Linked DNA regions of Homo sapiens: region 2 is linked to region 1. The links come from fine-mapping of genetic effects on plasma protein levels. A gene starts in region 1. The other region holds a variant in brackets. All regions are shown on one strand. Distances are from middle to middle.

What was found. PIP is the posterior inclusion probability: the model's chance that the variant is causal. The UK Biobank Pharma Proteomics Project read protein levels with antibody pairs (Olink). The fine-mapping took linkage between variants from a reference panel, not from the people measured, so its PIPs are less certain.
Region 2: its variant is fine-mapped to the plasma level of the LCAT protein (UK Biobank, PIP 0.97).

Annotation. Positions count from the first base shown.
Region 1 is chr16:67,943,410-67,951,469 of GRCh38, forward strand. It overlaps LCAT (lecithin-cholesterol acyltransferase), which reads right to left and starts at 711. Exons shown (of 6, transcript NM_000229.2): 1 at 539-711. The coding sequence starts at 692. It overlaps SLC12A4 (solute carrier family 12 member 4), which reads right to left. Exons shown (of 24, transcript NM_005072.5): 9 at 7,731-7,895; 10 at 7,553-7,651; 11 at 7,245-7,302; 12 at 6,910-7,084; 13 at 6,391-6,509; 14 at 4,652-4,750; 15 at 4,260-4,379; 16 at 3,922-4,026; 17 at 3,528-3,696; 18 at 3,029-3,224; 19 at 2,762-2,931; 20 at 2,542-2,673; 21 at 2,355-2,462; 22 at 1,960-2,144; 2 more. The coding sequence ends at 1,431.
Region 2 is chr16:68,610,590-68,619,105 of GRCh38, forward strand. No RefSeq gene overlaps it. Among named protein-coding and RNA genes, the nearest start is that of CDH3, 30 kb to the right of the region's middle. The variant C/T (reference allele first, on the strand shown) is at 3,921.

The sequences.
Region 1 (8,060 bases):
AGGAAGGGAAGGCGCTGAGGTGCTGAGGCCAAGGCCGCTGACCCCTGCCTCTGCAGAGCAAACACCCAGTCTGGCGCTCCTTTATTGCCAAAGTCCAAGGTGGGAACAGATAGGTCTGGGGGCATGGGGGCTGGGCCTAATAGGGGCCGGGCATGGATGGGCCTCTCCTGCTCACCGATCCTGGGCTGGGCATCTTGTCCTTGGTGGGTGGGGGCCAAGGAAGGAGTGGTGGGGCTTGGCCCAGAGTCTGGTGTGGCTGTGACTGACCACAGCTTGTGATGCCCCAGCCAAGACCTCAGGCACACCCCGTCCCCCACTCCGCCCCCCCTGGGTTAGACAACTGAGAGTCACAGTGTGGTGGGAGAAGGGACGTCATTCCTCTAAGGGACAAGCTTTTGGCCCCTCCCCACACCAGGGCAGGTACTTATGTCGGGGCTTATGCAGGGCAGAAGGGCTTTGGCCAGGTCAGCTGCCAGGGGCTGGGGCCCAGGCTCCCCAGGGTCTGGCGTGGTGCATCAGGGGCCTGGTGGGGGCTTACCGAGGATGACGGGCCGTGTGTGGTTACTGAGCTCAGCCTTGGGCGTGGTGTGCGGGGGGAAGAGCACATTGAGGAGCCAGAAGGGGGCGGCAGGAGGGAGCAGCAGCCCCAGCAGCAGCGTCACCCACTGCCATGGGGAGCCGGGCGGCCCCATTCCAGCCCTGGTGCCTACTGCCAGAGAAAGCGGCACTGGGCTGTCCTTATCTGGTGTGGGAGTGGGAGGGGCCCTAGGGCCAGTGGGAGGGACGGCCTGGCCAGTGGGGGTTGTGGCCAGAGATTGCCGGAAAGGGGCACAGCCTCAGGGAGCCGGCTCTGGGCCTGGGTTCAGTTCCGCCTTCTTCTCTTGGCGCCAGGGGAAACAGAGCCGGGGCAGCAGGAGGCCCAGAACTACACAATGTTTTATTGAAAAAGTCAGGCCTCAGCTCAGCTGTCTCCATTCGGCTCAGCTTGGTGGGGGGCCCTGCCCATAGTAGACTGAGCCAGATCTTCCTGCAGGCAGCTGGGCTGGACTCCCTCCCTGGCTACCCTTCCCTTCGTCTCTGATGGTGACATCCAAACAATAAATATGCAATAAATAGCGCTCCTGGGCTGGGCCGGGCCGGCTGCCTTCAAACCCCACTCGGCCCCTACCAGTCTTCTCTGGCCAGGACAGGCCTACTGGGGTGCTAGATAGTAAAGTCCCCAAACATCCCAGGGTCCCACAAGACCTGGGATCCATCTCCATTTTGAGGCCCAGGCCTGGTTTCCAAGGAGACCTAGCAAAGCTGGGTCCAGGACAGGGCCAGGCAAGCAGGGCTGGCAGGTGGGTGCTGGGAAGAGGCTGTTACCCCAGACCACAGCTTGTTATGTCCTGGCCAAGACCTCGACTCCAGGCCACAAGATGACACTGGGCTCAGGAGTAGATGGTGATGACTTCACGGCCACCACCGCGCACCAACAGCACCCGCTCAAGGCCCTCGGTCAGCACCTCGAGGAACTCCATGTCTGCAGGGCCTCAAGTCAAGGAGGCAACAACAGAATCAACGGGCAACCCGGGCCACCTGGGCCATGCCCACCCAGGGGTGCCCAGGAGAGAAGCCGCTGGCTTGACCTCCCATGCTATCCACCTCCCAACTGCCTGCCTCTCCACAAAGGGATACAGTTCTCGTCGCCCTCACTGTTCCTGGGTGGGCCAGGCATGTTTAGGAGAACCAGGCGGGCGTCGTGGGAGCGCGTGACAATGACTTCATTGAGCTTCACAGCAGTGTGCATGCGCCGCACATTGGATTGGTCCCTACACGTAGTGTAGCCAGTCACAGGTCGCCATGAGCCATCCTGCAAGGAGGGTCCCCACCCCTGGCCCATCTAACACTACTTGTCTGCCCCACCCCACCTCCACCCCTAGATTCCAGTGCCGCTGGGGCTGTTTTTGCTGCACTCACGGCTTAATGTGCACCAGCTCCCGGAAATTGTCAGGGGCATGGCTGGGGTCCCAGGTCTCAGTCATGTACTTGTCCCTGGTCCACGTCATCTGGATCTTGTCAGCCCCCACTGCAGACTCATCTTCCTCGTCCGAGTACAGGCTCTCCAGCCGCAGGGCCGAGTGCCGATCCTTGACCAGCTGGGCCTGAGGACAATTGCAGGAGATAGCCTTGGTCCCATAGGAAAAGGGGGATGGGGCCTGTCTGGCCCAATGTGACCACCTTGCCTCCGGGAAATGAGCACTAGCTTGGGTAGGGCTGCGGTGAGTCATTCTGATTCCTCCGCACCCACCGATGCGGTCTCCAAAGGCCTGACCCTGCCACCCGCCCTGGCGTGAACCACAAAGGGCACTGACTTCTCGCTCCCGCTCAGTCTTGGTCAGTCTCATCTGCCGCAGCATCTGCGACCGCTGCTCCATCATCAGCGTCCGCTCGTAGGTGTATGCAGAGATGTCACTGTTATGCTGGGGACAGGGTTGGCCGTGAGGACCCAGCTGCACGGGACATGGTATCCACGGGGCCAGGGCAGGGCAGAGGGCTCACCATCTCCACCACCTCCACCTCGGCCTCAAGGCGCAGATGGTACAGAAAGACAGCCAGGTCCTTCTTCATCTGGATGCTGTTGTCATCCATCTGGGCCACTGTGAAGATGCGCATCCGGCACTTCCTCCAGACCTGAGGCAAGGGACCAGGTGGGCGGTTTGGTCACAGCTGCTCCTCCAAGGGCCTAGCCCCTCTCATCTGCACCCACCCCCTGGTCTACCTTATGCTGGCGCAGCAGGAAGGGCAGAAGCATGAGCATGCCACCATCGTGCACGATCCACCACACGTCTATGTGGCCCTCCAGGTAGCGCTCGTGGTTGCTGGGGTAGAAGGCGATGTTCTTGGGCACGAGCAGGGCCAGGTGGGCAGCCGTAGTGCAGCGCACGGTGTCTGGGGAGGAGGAGCACGGCTGACCACCAGTCTGTGGCCCTCCGCCCACTGCCACCTCACTTCACCCCTGCCCACCAGGCCCCAGGCCTTCACACACCAATGAAGGTCTTCCAGGCACGGGGGTCCTCGCTCTGTCGCCAGCCGTAGGGCCAGCCCAGCACCACGGAGTTATGCCGCATGCCTCCCAGGCCACAGGACTGGATGAGGTGGGCCAGCCCCTCCCGCACCTTGCTGGCCACCACCACCTGGCAGAAGCCCTTCACCTTCTCAATTTCCATCATGTTCTTGATGGTCTGTGGGGAACACACCCAGGGCCAATGGGAGGCCATCAGCTTCCTGCCTCTGGGCTCCCTCCCAAGGCCCCTCGGGAACAAAACGACTTTTGGGTGGAGGAGGGCCTGGGGGCAACAAGCTGCCTACCCAGAGGCCAAGTTTTCAAGATGGGACTGCTGGCTCCCCCTTGTGCCAGCTCTCAGGTGGCAGCAGTGCTGGCTGCCTGGCTGGCCACCCTGGCCAAGACTGGGCCCTCCCCTCCGTGCCAGCTGCAGTCCAGACCCCTGTAGTCTGGCTCAGCTCTCCCTCCCCAAAGCAAGTACCTGCTCGGCGGCCTGAGCCTCGCCATAGCTCTCCAAGAAGCTCCCCTGGATGACAGAACCAACAATGGTCAGGCCCTTGCCAGCCTTGAGCTGGGAGGCGAAGGTGAGGAGCCGCGGGTACTTCACGTGGAGGTCCTCGTCCAGCTTCAGCAGCACCAGCAGCTGCGGCCTGCAGTGGCCGGGTGGGGGGAGCCTGAGACCAGGGCCGGCCGTTCTAGGGAGCCCCTCCTCTTCTTCCCTTCTCGGGTCGTGGTCCCTGCAGGTTTGGGTAGCATGGCCCAGGAGGGTGCCCCGGGCAGCCCCAGGATGGGGAGCCGGCACCTCTCGACCCTCTGACCCCGACAGCGACCCCTAAGAACCTCTGCGCCCTGGCCAGGGTCTGGCGGGAACTCACCGCCAGTTCTTGGTGTGAGGAGGCCCCTCCTCCAGCCGCAACAGCGCGTAGCGGGCAGCGCTCAGGGACAGGCCTCGGATCCCGTCACCCCACTCCTTCTCAGCCCTGCAGATTCCACCACAGCTGGTGAGCCCCTGGTGCCGCCCAGGGGGTTCTGTCTATGTGGATGCGAGGTGGAGGGGTTCTGCCCCTCAAGACCACCCAGGGGTCCTGAGTTACAGTCCCCAGTCCTGGCACCCACGGTGGCCCAGCTCCCTGCCCACCCCAATGCCAGACCACCCTGCCTGCTCGGCCGGGCCCCCTCAGCTGGCAGAGGCCAGGTGGCAGTGCTCACTCACCCTTGGTACTCGATGTATTTGTAGATCATGCCGGCGATGAGCATGGCCACCAGGGCATAGTACCAGGAGGAGACAAACATAAGGGCCAGGCAGAGACTCATGCCCAGGAAGGACAGCGCCCTGGACGAGAGGGGAGGGCAGAGTCAGGGCAGGACCAGGAGGACCCCTGGCCACAGCCTGGCCCATGCCCTGGTAGCCCTGTCAGGTCCCGGGTGGGAGGTCCCAGGTGGGTGGTCAGGTCACTGGGTGTAAGACCTAGGTCCAGTCCCCCGCAGCCCTATAATCTCCCTCCCCACAGTGTTTCAAGAGCTCCCTACCCAGGAAACCCAAGCCTCACCCAGAATGAGGCTCCTGGCCTCCCCAGGGTCTCCCGTGTCAGAGGCATGGCTCACCAGTGATAGTACTTGAACCGGGGCCGCCAGTTGGGGGTCCTCAGGAGTGTCTGCACCGCACAGGCGAGGTTCACGAACAGGTAGCACATCAGAAAGAACCTGCGGCACAGAGGGCGGTTGGCGAAGAGCAGCCTCCTCGGCAGCTGGGGACCTGATGTCAGGCTGGGCCTGGCCCAGAAACGGGGCGTGGCCCGGCCCTGCCCTGCATGGCTCAGCAAGGTCTTCTCAACCTCATTGCTGCCACCTCCATGGCCTGAGGCAATGAGACTACTGTGGAGGAGTCCTCGGAGCCAGATCGCAGAGGATGGGCAAGGGTTTGCTGTTGGAGGAGGTAGGAAGGGGAGTAACAGGGCAGAGCTGAAGAGGGTGGTGCAGGGGCAGCAGGAAGAGCTCAGTGCCTGGAGACTCTAGGCCACATTCAGGCCTCTGGCCTGAGTGACCAGCTGGATGAGAGGCTGCCATGCATGAAGGGGAGGATGGAAGATAAGCTGGACCATTTGAATGCAACCAGTCAGAGATACTTAAGAGTCACTGCGGTGGGCGTGGGAGTCCCACGCATGGGCAGGGCCAGCTGCATGAGCCCTCCAGGAAGGCACCCGAGGACGGGTGCGCAGGAAGGCAGGAGGACCCACACAGGGCATGCCAGGGGGCAGGGGCTCCCAGCAGGAGGCCCGAGATAAAGGCTGAGATGTAGCCTCTGATTTGGGCACAAGGGGGGTCACCACCCAAGATGGCTGTGGCAAAACAGTTTCAGGTGTGCTCTTGGGTGAGAGGAAGGGGTGTGGGGGGGTGGACAAGAGGGTGCTGGCTCCAGCAGGCCTGGCTGTAGCTGGGATGGAGCCTGCTCAGGGGTACAGGGCCCCTGTCAAGTCTGCAGGCTGAGTGGGCAGGGAAGAGGAGGCCTTTCATAACCGCACAAGCAAGAAGGAGCGTCAGCCACGGAGCAGGGTGGGCGAGGACCCCAGCCTGGACAGAGTCAACCAAACAAGCGCTGCCTCGGGGTCCCTGGGAGTCACCACATGCTGGCCACTCCCTGCAAGGCACTGGCACGCAGATTTGCCTGGCTGATTCCAGAATGTTAAAAGCAAATGACTTTGAAAATGGATGGGTTGGGCATGGTGGCTCACGCCTGTAATCCCAGCACTTTGGGAGGCCGAGCCAGGTGGATCATCTGACGTCAGGAGTTCGACACCAGCCTGGCCAAGATGGTAAAACGCCATCTCTACTAAAAATACAAAAAATTAGCTGGGCGTGGTGGTGCATTTCTGTAATCCCAGCTACTCAGGAGGCTGAGGCAGGAGAATTGCTTGAACCCAGGAGGCGGAGATTGCAGTGAGCCAAGATCATGCCATTGCACTCCAGCCTGGGTGAGAGAGTGAGACTCTGTCTCAAAAAAAAAAAACAAAAACCAAAAAACAAACTAACAGATGGAAGGGGCAGCAGTGGCTTCATGGAGGCATGAGGGACGCGGTGGTTGCCCTGTCCAGTGGGAAGGTCTGCCGGCCACCTGCTCTGGGGGCCTCAGGGAGGTGTGGACATATTGGTCACCTTATAGCTTTGGCATAGGTGCCAGGCTTGCTCCTAAATGCAGGGGTGGGCTGAGCCCTGTCAGGCCACATCTCCCCATGCAGCCTGCCACATCTCCCAGCTGGACCTCCAACACCAGACGCAGCCACGGGGAGGTGCTGGGGTTCAGGAAGCCTTTCCCCATCCCCCTGCCCTGCCCGGCCCCAGCTCACATGGATAAGATGGGGGCCACCATGTCGAGGGAGGCGATGAGGATGCCCAGCTCGGCGATGAGTGCCGTCAGGAGGAGTGCCCATGTGGGTTCACCATTCACCTTCCCGTGGCCAAACACCTGTGTGCACCAGGAAGGAAGCTGGGTCCTGTCACCCCCATTCCACACCTTGGGCCCCAGACCCCAGCCTGGCCTCCCTCACCCCCAGGGCCCGCCTTGGGGGCTCAGGCCGCCCCTGTGTCTATCCCTATGGGTGTCACCAGTCTCCCTGATTCCACCTCACCAGGCCTCTCTCCTTTGGATGAGCCCTAAACAGGCCATGAAGATTCTGGGTCCAGGCAGCTCCAGGCCCAGGTGAGTGCCAGGCCCAGGGCACTTCTCAGTAGCTCCTCATGGATGGCCGCCTGGCCCCGGGGGCCAATAAGGGCAGGACGTGCTGCATCTGTGTTCCCTATCTCTCTCCCCAGCCGGGCGAGGGCCTGGGAGCAGCCAGGCCATGGGGGAGTGCAGAGGGGCTCACCCGGAGGAAGGGGATGATGTTGTCCTTGGCAATGGCCTGCAATAGGCGTGGTGCCCCTGTGAGGCTCTGGAGGCCAGCGCCACACGTTGAAAAGAAGGAGCCGATGACGATGACCCAGGGTGAAGGCCAGGCCAGTGTGCCCACCACCAAGTTCCTGCTGACACCATCGCCATACCTGCAGGGGCCACCAGAGTGAGGGATGTCAGGGGTCCGGAAGGATGGCACAGACCACCAAAGGCAGCCAGCAGGCTTAGGACCACCCACGGGGTTGGGAGCTGGTGTGAGGGCAGGCCAAAGCCCAGCCGCTGCTAAAGAGGGGGGCCCAGCTCACTCACTTGTCCCGGAGAACCACACCCTCAATGCAGGCACCAAAGAGAACCACACTGCTGAAGTCTGCGGCGGCGTCAAGGAAAACTCGGCCTCTGCCACCCCACTGTCCCTGAATAGTACCACGTGCCCCCACCCCAGCCAGACTACCAGGACACCTACAGCTGGGAGTCTCGTGGTGTGTATGTGCATGTGTGCATGAGAAGGGGAGCTATATATGAGTGTGTGGGGTGTCTGTGCATGTGACCTGGCAACGTACACAGGCCAAGCGCTTCCCGTCCTCTGCCCCACCTGCCCCAGGCCTGGGAAAGGATACACACGAGGGAAGTTGTAATGATGGCCAGAATGGTCCCCACAGGGATAGACTTCTGGGCGTCACGAAGGTCCCCAGAGCGGTTTGAGCCAGCCATGATGCCTCCAAAAACAGATGAGACTCCCTCAGGGGCTCCCCGGGATTGGGGACAGGGCTGGGTGGGTAGGCAGGCAGGGCTCACCTGTTACAGAAGGGAAGAAGATGCCGACCAGCACGGTGAAGGATGTGGCGATGTCAGCGACCACGTACAGAGGCAGGCTCTCCTTCAGGCTCGGGGCATCTGCGGAGGGCAGCCCATGCTTCTCCACGATGTCACCCTTCTCCAGGTAGGCGCTCCACAGGTTTTCTGCAGGGGTAGCTGTGTCACCACCACAGCTGCCCCCCACTACCCCAGGTAGTTTGGGGCAGCCTAGCCAGAGGCGCAGATGCAGGGCAACTTTGGGGACTCAGGGAACAGCTTCAGCCCAATGACTGCAGCGTCAGCCACAGGGCTACCCTGACCACAGAGAAG
Region 2 (8,516 bases), 670 kb after region 1:
CAAAAAATAAAAAAGATTAAAATAAAAAGAAAATGTCTATGCATCTGTCTGTCTCTCCACTAGTTAGTGGAGGGGACTGAATCTTACTCATTGCCAAATCCCCATCCCTAAGTCAAGCCTGAGGTGGGCACACTGGGAGCACTTGGGAGGTGGTTGTTTTTTGTTTTTTTGAGACGGAGTTTCACTCTTGTTGCCCAGGCTGGAGTGCAATGGCATAATCTCAGCTCACTGCAACCTCCGCCTCCTGGGCTCAAGTGATTCTCCTGCCTCAGCCTCCCAAGTAGCTGGGATTACAAGCGTGCGCCACCACACCTGGCTAATTTTTGTATTTTTAGTAGAGATGGGGTTTCTCCATGTTTGCCAGGCTGGTCTCAAACTCCTGACCTCAGGTGATCCACCCGCCTCAGCCTCCCAAAGTGCTGGGATTACAGGTGTGAGCCACCGCGTCCTACCGGGAGGTGGTTGTTAATTGGACTAGGTTTGGTTCAGTTCAGGAAAGCCTTCATCACCAGGCTAAAGAATCTGGACTCAATACCCAAAGACAATGGGGACCATCGAAGATTGTTGAACACGAGGAGTTCATCATCTGAGAAGCGTTTTAGCAAAATTAAGCTGAGCAAGCAGCAGTGAGAAGGAGGATGTTTTGAAGAGGAGGTAAACTGAAGGTGGGACAGGGAAACGAACTAGTCATTGCAAGGACAGTTAAGAAGTTGTTGCAAGGCCAGGCACGGTGGCTCATGCCTATAATCTCAGCACTTTGGGAGGCTGAAGCGGGAGGCTCACTTGCACCCAGGAGTTCAGAATCAGCCTGGGCAACATGGCAAAATTCTGTCCCTACAAAAAATACAAAAAAGGCCGGGCGCAGTGGCTCAAGCCTGTAATCCCAGCACTTTGGGAGGCGGAGGCAGGCGGATCACCTGAGGTCAGGAGTTCGAGACCAGCCTGACCAATATGGAGAAACCCCATCTCTACTAAAAACACAAAATTAGCCGGGCGCGGTGGTGCATGCCTGTAATCCCAGCTACTTGGGAAGCTGAGGCAGGAGAATCGCTTGAACCTGAGAGGCGGAAGTTGCAGTGAGCCGAGATGGCGCCACTGCACTCCAGCCTAGGCAACAAGAACGAAACTCTGTCTCAAAAAAAAAAAAAATCCCAAAAAATTAGCTGGGCATGGTGGCACGCGCCTGTGGTGCCAGCTACACCTACTGAGATGGGAGAATCCCCTGAGCCTGGGAGGTCAAGGCAGCAGTGAGCTGAGATTGAATCACTGCACTCTAGCCTGGGTGATGGAAGTAAGACCCTGTCTCAAAAAAAAAAAAAAAAAAAAGAAAGAAAGAAGCTGTGGCAGAAATGAAGCAAGAACGTAGGGTTAGATCATGAAAGAAAGGACTAGAAAGGAAAGTATCAACTTGGGCCACATATCTATTTTGTTGTTGTTGGGTTTTCTTTTTCTTTTCTCAAATATCTGTGTTTTATACATGGGCTGTGACCTCACTTTTATAAAACCATGTATTATTAGTATTGTGTGTGTTTTAAAATATAATCTATGTGGTCTTGTAAGTCACAAGGCTTGACACTAGTTAGCTGAAGAGGCTTCTGGGGAAGTGTTGGGGTATATGTGTGCATGTTTTGTTTTTAATAAAACCATGTGGTTTTTTAAATATTTATTTATTTATTTATTTATTTATTTTGAGACAGAGTCTCACTCTGTCCCCCAAGCTGGAGTGCAGTGGCAGGATCTTGGCTCACTGCAACTTCTGCCTCCCGGATTCAAGCGATTCTCCTGCCTCAGCCTCCTGAATAGCTAGGATTACAGATGCATGCCACCATGCCCAGCTAATTTTTGTATTTTTAGTAGAGACAGGGTTTCACCATGTTGGTCAGGCTGGTCTCGAAATCCTGACCTTGTGATCTGCCCACCTCAGCCTCCCAAAGTGCTGGGATTACAGGCATGAGCCACCGTGCCCAGCCTCCATGTATTATTTTTAATCCTCACAAAAACCTTGTGAGGTAGGATATTGTTAGCTCTCCCTTACAGGTGAAGAAACCGAGGCTGAGAGAGAATTGGAAGCACTTGCTCAGGGTCATAGCCGGTACTTTACGACTCCAGCATGTCTTCCCCAGGTACCCTGAAGGAATAATTCAGTGGGCATCATGATTAATTGGATTGGGACAGGAGGAGGAGAAGAGGAGAGGATCAAAAATGACCAGAACACTTCCAGCTTGACCAAGTGGAAAATAATCAGCAGGTCAGGAGGGAGTGCTGGGTTGATGGGGGAATGTTTAAGCCAAAGGAGTGAATACCTAATGGCAAAATTTGGTGCATCAGATTGGGGTTTATGGGAAAGCCCATAAGTGCTCTCCTTGTTGGCTGGCCTTGCCACTGACACCTGAAGCCTGCTAGCAACTGAACAATTTCAAGAGAAAAAAAAAAATCAACCCCATACTTTCTGGCGAATGGTGTGTTCCTTTGAGTACTTGGGTCTTTTTCTACATCAGCAGCTTGGCAGCTTGTACTATCTGTGGCTCTGACTATGCAGCCTGATTGATTGACCAGGCTTAAAAGGCCTGTTCTTGAATTTGAGATCTCAGGCTTCCAGTCCCTATAGATCATCAACAAAGACCAAAAGGCCTGGCATGAACCCGAGGTTATTATTCACTGGAGAAGACATTATAAACCACAGGAACATAAAGCCCAGCAGGCAGGAATGACCGCCCAGCTCACTAGGCACACAGTGTCCTCACTCCTCCATCCAGCATGATTCATAATTAAATCTTCAGGCAGGAGGCAAACTAGAATTTTGTGTAAACTGGCATTGGAGAGACACTTTGAGTGTAGTTTAATTTCAAAGTTCTAGACCTCCAGAATTTGACATGCTTGTGACATTTCAAGTACAGGCTGTCCCTCCCTACCCCTCACTGGGACTATATCCTGGGGAGAAATGACCCAAAGGGAAAAAAATTGTGGGATCACTAGCTAAACTCTAGGTTTAGAAAACTGTACCATTATACAGACTCCATGTATGTTACATATATCATGGTGGAAACTAAAAGACCATCTGTGGACAAAAGACATACAGAATTCATACATAAAAAAGACATTTAAATGGCATTTATTCATATTACAGGGTCACCATGCTGCACAACTCCAGGGGGCAGCACTCCCATTGGATTCTATTCACAGAGATATATTTTTTGATGATTTGTAAGATAAGATACTCAACCTCTCATAATAAGAGAAATGTTAATTAAAACAATAAGGTACTGTTTTCCATGTTTTGGATTAGCAAATCAAAGAGTTGACAGGATCCCATGTTGGTGGTAGTGTAATTTGGTACCCCTTTTATGGAGGGTGTAGAGAGTACTGTGGACTGGCTCTCTCAATCTGACTCATTCCACCCTCTTCTAGGTGGAGACATTGGAAAGCTAAACCTACACGTCCCAGACTCCCTTGCAGCTAGAGTTTTGGATAGAAATTAGGTCCTACTAGTTAGAAGAATTAATGAGACACGGGGTAGGTGATGGAAAGACAAAGGCCATTTTCTCTGTACTTTTGGCTATCTCTGCTGTCAAGGAGGGTTGTGGAGACCTGAGATTTTTCTGCAGCATATTCAGAGTCCATTATCTGGCATCCTAGGTGTCAGTAGTGACATTTTGATCCTAACTTCTGGCTGCAGTTCCAGTAGTGATCGCAGAGGAGTGGCTTCCCCAGAAAGTTACCTGTGTATTGACCTCTTGGAGGCCCAGGCCAAAGCCCCTCCTACAGTCATTTCAGCAATTTTGTGAACACCTAATTTCCTCCATTAAATCTCCTGCTTGAACTACCTAAAGTGGTTTCCGGTTCTTGCACAAAACCCCAGTTGCTATAGAGCATAACTTAAATAAATCTATAAAAGTTGAAAGTGCAAATATGAGGCCAGG[C/T]ATGGTGGCTGACGCTGTAATCCCAGCACTTTGAGAGGCTGAGGAGGGAGGATCCCTGGAGCCCAGGAGTTCAAGACCAACCTGAGTAACATAGTGAGACCCCGTCCTACAAAATATCAAAAAAATTAGCTGGGCATGGTGATGCATGCCTGTAGTCCCAGCTACTCAGGTGGTTGAGGCAGGAGAATTGCTTGAGCCCAGAAGGTCAAGGCTGCAATGAGCCGTGGCTGTGCCACTGCACTCCAGCCTGGGTGACAGAGTGAGACTGTGTCTCAAAAAACAAACAAACAAATGCAAAGAAAATGCAAATAAAATATGCCTCTTAGCTAGTACTTCTACTCCTAGGAATGTATCTAACAGATATGTTTTTACATGTGTGAAATAATTTATGCACAAGGATATTCACTGCACCATTGTTTACAGTAGTAGAAGATCAGAAATGAGCCAAATGTTCATCAGTAGGAGATCAGCTAAATAAATCAGGGAGATCCATTTCAGTGGAATACTATGCAGCAGTTTAAAAAAAAAAGGAAGAAAAATAATCAGAGAGCTTGCTATATACTCATAGAGAACAACCTCTAAATTATATAAAGTGAAAGTAAGGTCCAGAACACTATGTCAAAAAATGGAAAGAAGGGCTGGCCATGGTGGTTCACACCTGTAATCCCAGCACTTTGGGAGGCCAAGGCAGGTGGATCACCTGAGGTCAGGAGTTCGAGACCAGCCTGGCCAACATGGTGAAACACCATCTTTACTAAAAATACAAAAAATTAGCTGGGTATGGTGGCATACACCTGTAATCCCAGCTACTCGGGAGGCTGAGGCAGAAGAATTGCTTGAACCTGGGAGGTGGGGGTTGCAGTGAGCCAAGATCGCACCACTGTACTCCAGCCTGGGCAACAGAGTGAGACTCCATCTCAGAAAAAAGAAAAAAAAATCAATACATTCTCTTTTTTTTTTTTTTTTTTTTTTTTTTTTTTAGAGCTGGAGTGCAGTGGCACCATCACGGTTCACTGCAGCCTCAACCTCGAGGGCTCAAGCAATTTTCCCACCTCAGCCACTTGGGACCACAGGCATGTGCCACCACACCAGCTAATTTTTGTATTTTTTATAGAGACAGTGTTTTGCTATGTTACCCAGGCTGGTCTTGAACTCCTGGGCTCAAGCCATCTGCCTGACTCAGCCTCCCTAAGCGCTGGGATTACAGGTGTGAGCCACCACACCTGGCCAATAAAATTTTATTAAAATAAAATAAAATAACCTGCATTTCCCCACAATTTAGAGAATCTCAGAGAGTCCTTTCCTTTCCATTTCCTCTCTCTCTTGTTGTCTCCCCCATGAGAATCAGCTAAGGGACTTAGGCAGGGTTGTGGCTCAAGCTGATCTCTTGTGACAAAAGTTCTTTCTCCTGAAGCCTCTGTGACATGATAGGAAGAGGTCCCAGCAAATCCCACAGAACTGGTCAGTGAGAGAGCCCCCAATCCTGGCCTCTCTTTTCTACTCAGCTCGTTGCTTCAATAATCCCTGCCCCTTTCTCCTGCATCGTTGATCTTCTTCGCCCTTTGGATCTTCCCATCAGCCTTCAGTCATCCTTAAATTATCAACGTTAAAAAAAAACAAATACCCCCGGTTGGGCACGGTGGCTCATGCCCATAATCCCAGCACTTTGGGAGGCTGAGGCTGGCGGATCACGAGGTCAGGAGATAGAGGCCATCCTGGCTAACACGGTGAAACCCCATCTCTACTAAAAATATAAAAAAATAGCCGGGCATGGTGGCAGGCACCTGTAGTCCCAGCTACTTGTGAGGCTGAGGCAAGAGAATCGCTTGAACCTGGGAGGTCGAGGCTGCAGTGAGCTGAGATGGCACCACTGTACTCCAGCCTTGGTGACAGACCGAGACTCTGTCTTAAAATTAAAAACAAACAAACAGAAAGCCCAAATAGCTATCATAGGGATGGATAGTGTACCAGCCAGGCTTTCTCAGGCCCGAAGGCAGAATCTTGTCTGTCCAGATGACTCTGAGCAACGCTGAGGGTTTATCAGACAGGGAGGTGCTGAGAGCCAGAAACTGTTCCCCAGGGCAGGATGGCCAGGGAGGGTGGAGAGCGGAGCTCCACCTCAGCATCACCTGGGGACATCGGAGCACAGCTTCCTGCCTTCTCCTTACTTAGCTGGTGTTTGTGCCTCCTGGGAGAGGCACCAGTGAGGCTGCTCCTGGTCTCTCCAGCCACATCTGGTTCTGAGAGGTCTCAGCCTACTGCCTGGGCTGCTATGTTGTGCCACAGGCCCCCATCCCCCCGGACCATGGTTGACTGACCTAAGAGTGGACAGTAGACCCAGAAAGACACCGATTCTTCGGCTGGGCTGAGGCAGTCAGGCTCTTTGTCCTGGAAATGTGGGACAGAGATGAAAGCAGTTAGAAGAAAGTTGAAAGGCAAGGTTGTATTGTGTTGGGGCTGTGGAGGGGCTGTGGAGGCCATGTCAGGTCAGGTGAGGAGGAAGAAGATGGCTTCGAGAGAAAGGGAAGGGCAGGGAGAGGCAGAAATGAGAAAGCCTGGTGGCCCAGAGAGCACAACCTTGGTTCTTGACTTTCTGGATCCAGTTCCTGATAGCCAGCCTTATCATTCCTCTTCTATCGCTGGATGCCCTGGAGTAAATCCCTCTTCATGTGAGCTGACTGTAGGTCCCAGGTCATCAGACTGGACCACCCTCCTCCCTCCTTAAGGCAGACAGCTACAGAACCTGAGTCACTCTTCCCTGTTCCTTGATGATTTCACATTTTCTCCAACACTAAGAATCATAATCACTTCAATACCAACAAAGAGGAGGACCCTTGAGAACATTATGCTAGTGAGAAGTTACAACTATCGTTCCGATAGCTGTAACCCCATAATCCTGATTTCAAGCATCCTGCTCGATAATCACTACCTCTACCTCCAGCCCGCTTTTCAAGTATTCCATCTCCAGTAATTCTTTGACTCCTTTTGGACCCACAATCCATTGATTCTACCACCTTTCCATCATCTCTTACACTTGACATTGCCTCACTTCCGTCTTTGCGTCTGACATTCCATGGTCCATCATTACAGTCACTCCTTTATATACATCCTCAACTTCTTTGCCCCTTTTCTGTAGTCACCCAGAAAAACACCGTTAATTCCAACTCTTCTACTCTACAGCTGTACCCGTGCAGCTGAACAGGCTGGGGAAAACTCACAACCACAGGGACTTATTTCAAATGCGTGACCATTAACTTCAAGTGGACCCCCGGGATTGCTTGGCAACCTTACCATCTTACCACCTTTCTCAGGCCATTCACTCTCCCACACTCCTAGAGATTATTTCGTGCCTTCTCTCTCTTCTCGTGCACAACCCGTCCTCCTGTGTGCTCACCCTCAGCCAATGATTTCATCACAAGAGAACTTCCATAAGCTCCCACACCCACACGCACCCTGCATCTGTGAACATGTGTGTGCCCCACCTTCCTTCCTTCCACAGCTTTTTTTTTTTTTTTTTTTTTTTTGAGGCAGAATCTTGCTCTGTTGCCTAGGCTGGAATGCAATGGTGCAATCTCAGCTCACTGCAACCTCTGCCTCCCAGGTTCAAGCGATTCATCTGCCTCAGCCTCCCAGGTAGCTGGGATTACAGGCTTGCGTCACCACGCCCAGCTAATTTTTGTATTTTTGGTAGAGACAGGGGTTTCACCATGTTGCCCAGGCTGGTCTCGAACTCCTGGCCTCAGGTGATCTGTCCGCCTCGGCCTCCCAAAGTGCTGGGATTATAGGCGTGAGCCACGGTGCCCAGCCTCTTTCCACAGCTCTGCATGCGATGTTTGTTTGTTTGTTGTTGTTGTTGTTGTTGTTTGTCATTTGACAAGGTCTCACTCTGTCACCCAGGCTAGGGTGCAGTGGCACAACCATGGTTCACTGCAACTTCGACCTCCCAGGCTCAAGTGATCCTCCCACCTCAGACTTCCAAAGTGCTGGGAATGCAGCCGTGAGCCACTGAAGCAGATCCCCTGTGCCCCTTTTTAAAGATCAACCCAGGTCAGGCGCGGTGGCTTACGCCTGTAATCCCAGCACTTTGGGAGGCCGAGGCGGGCAGATCACTTGAGGTCAGGAGTTCGAGATCAGCCTGACCAACATGGAGAAACCCCGTCTCTACTAAAAATTAGCCTGGCATGGTGGTGCATGCCTGTAATTCCAGCTACTCAGGAGGCTGAGGCAGGAGAATCGCTTGAACCCGGGAGGCGGAGGTTGCGGTGAGCCCAGATCATGCCATTGCACTCCAGCCTGGGCAACAAGAGCGAAACTCCATCTCAAAAAAATAAATAAATAAAAATAAAAAATAAATAAAAAATAAAAAAAAGATCAATCCATCACTTAGCAGTAGATCTTAGCCCCTTTTTTCCACTCAGCCAATTGCTTCAAAAATCCCTCCCTCTTTCTCCCGTATCCTCAGTCTCCTCCACCCATTGCATTTTTCCCATCAAACTTTAATCAGCCTGTAATTTATCAATGTTAAAAAAAAAATCCCAGCTACCCGGGAGGCTGAGGCAGGAGAATCACTTGAACCTAGGAAGCAGAGGTTGCAGT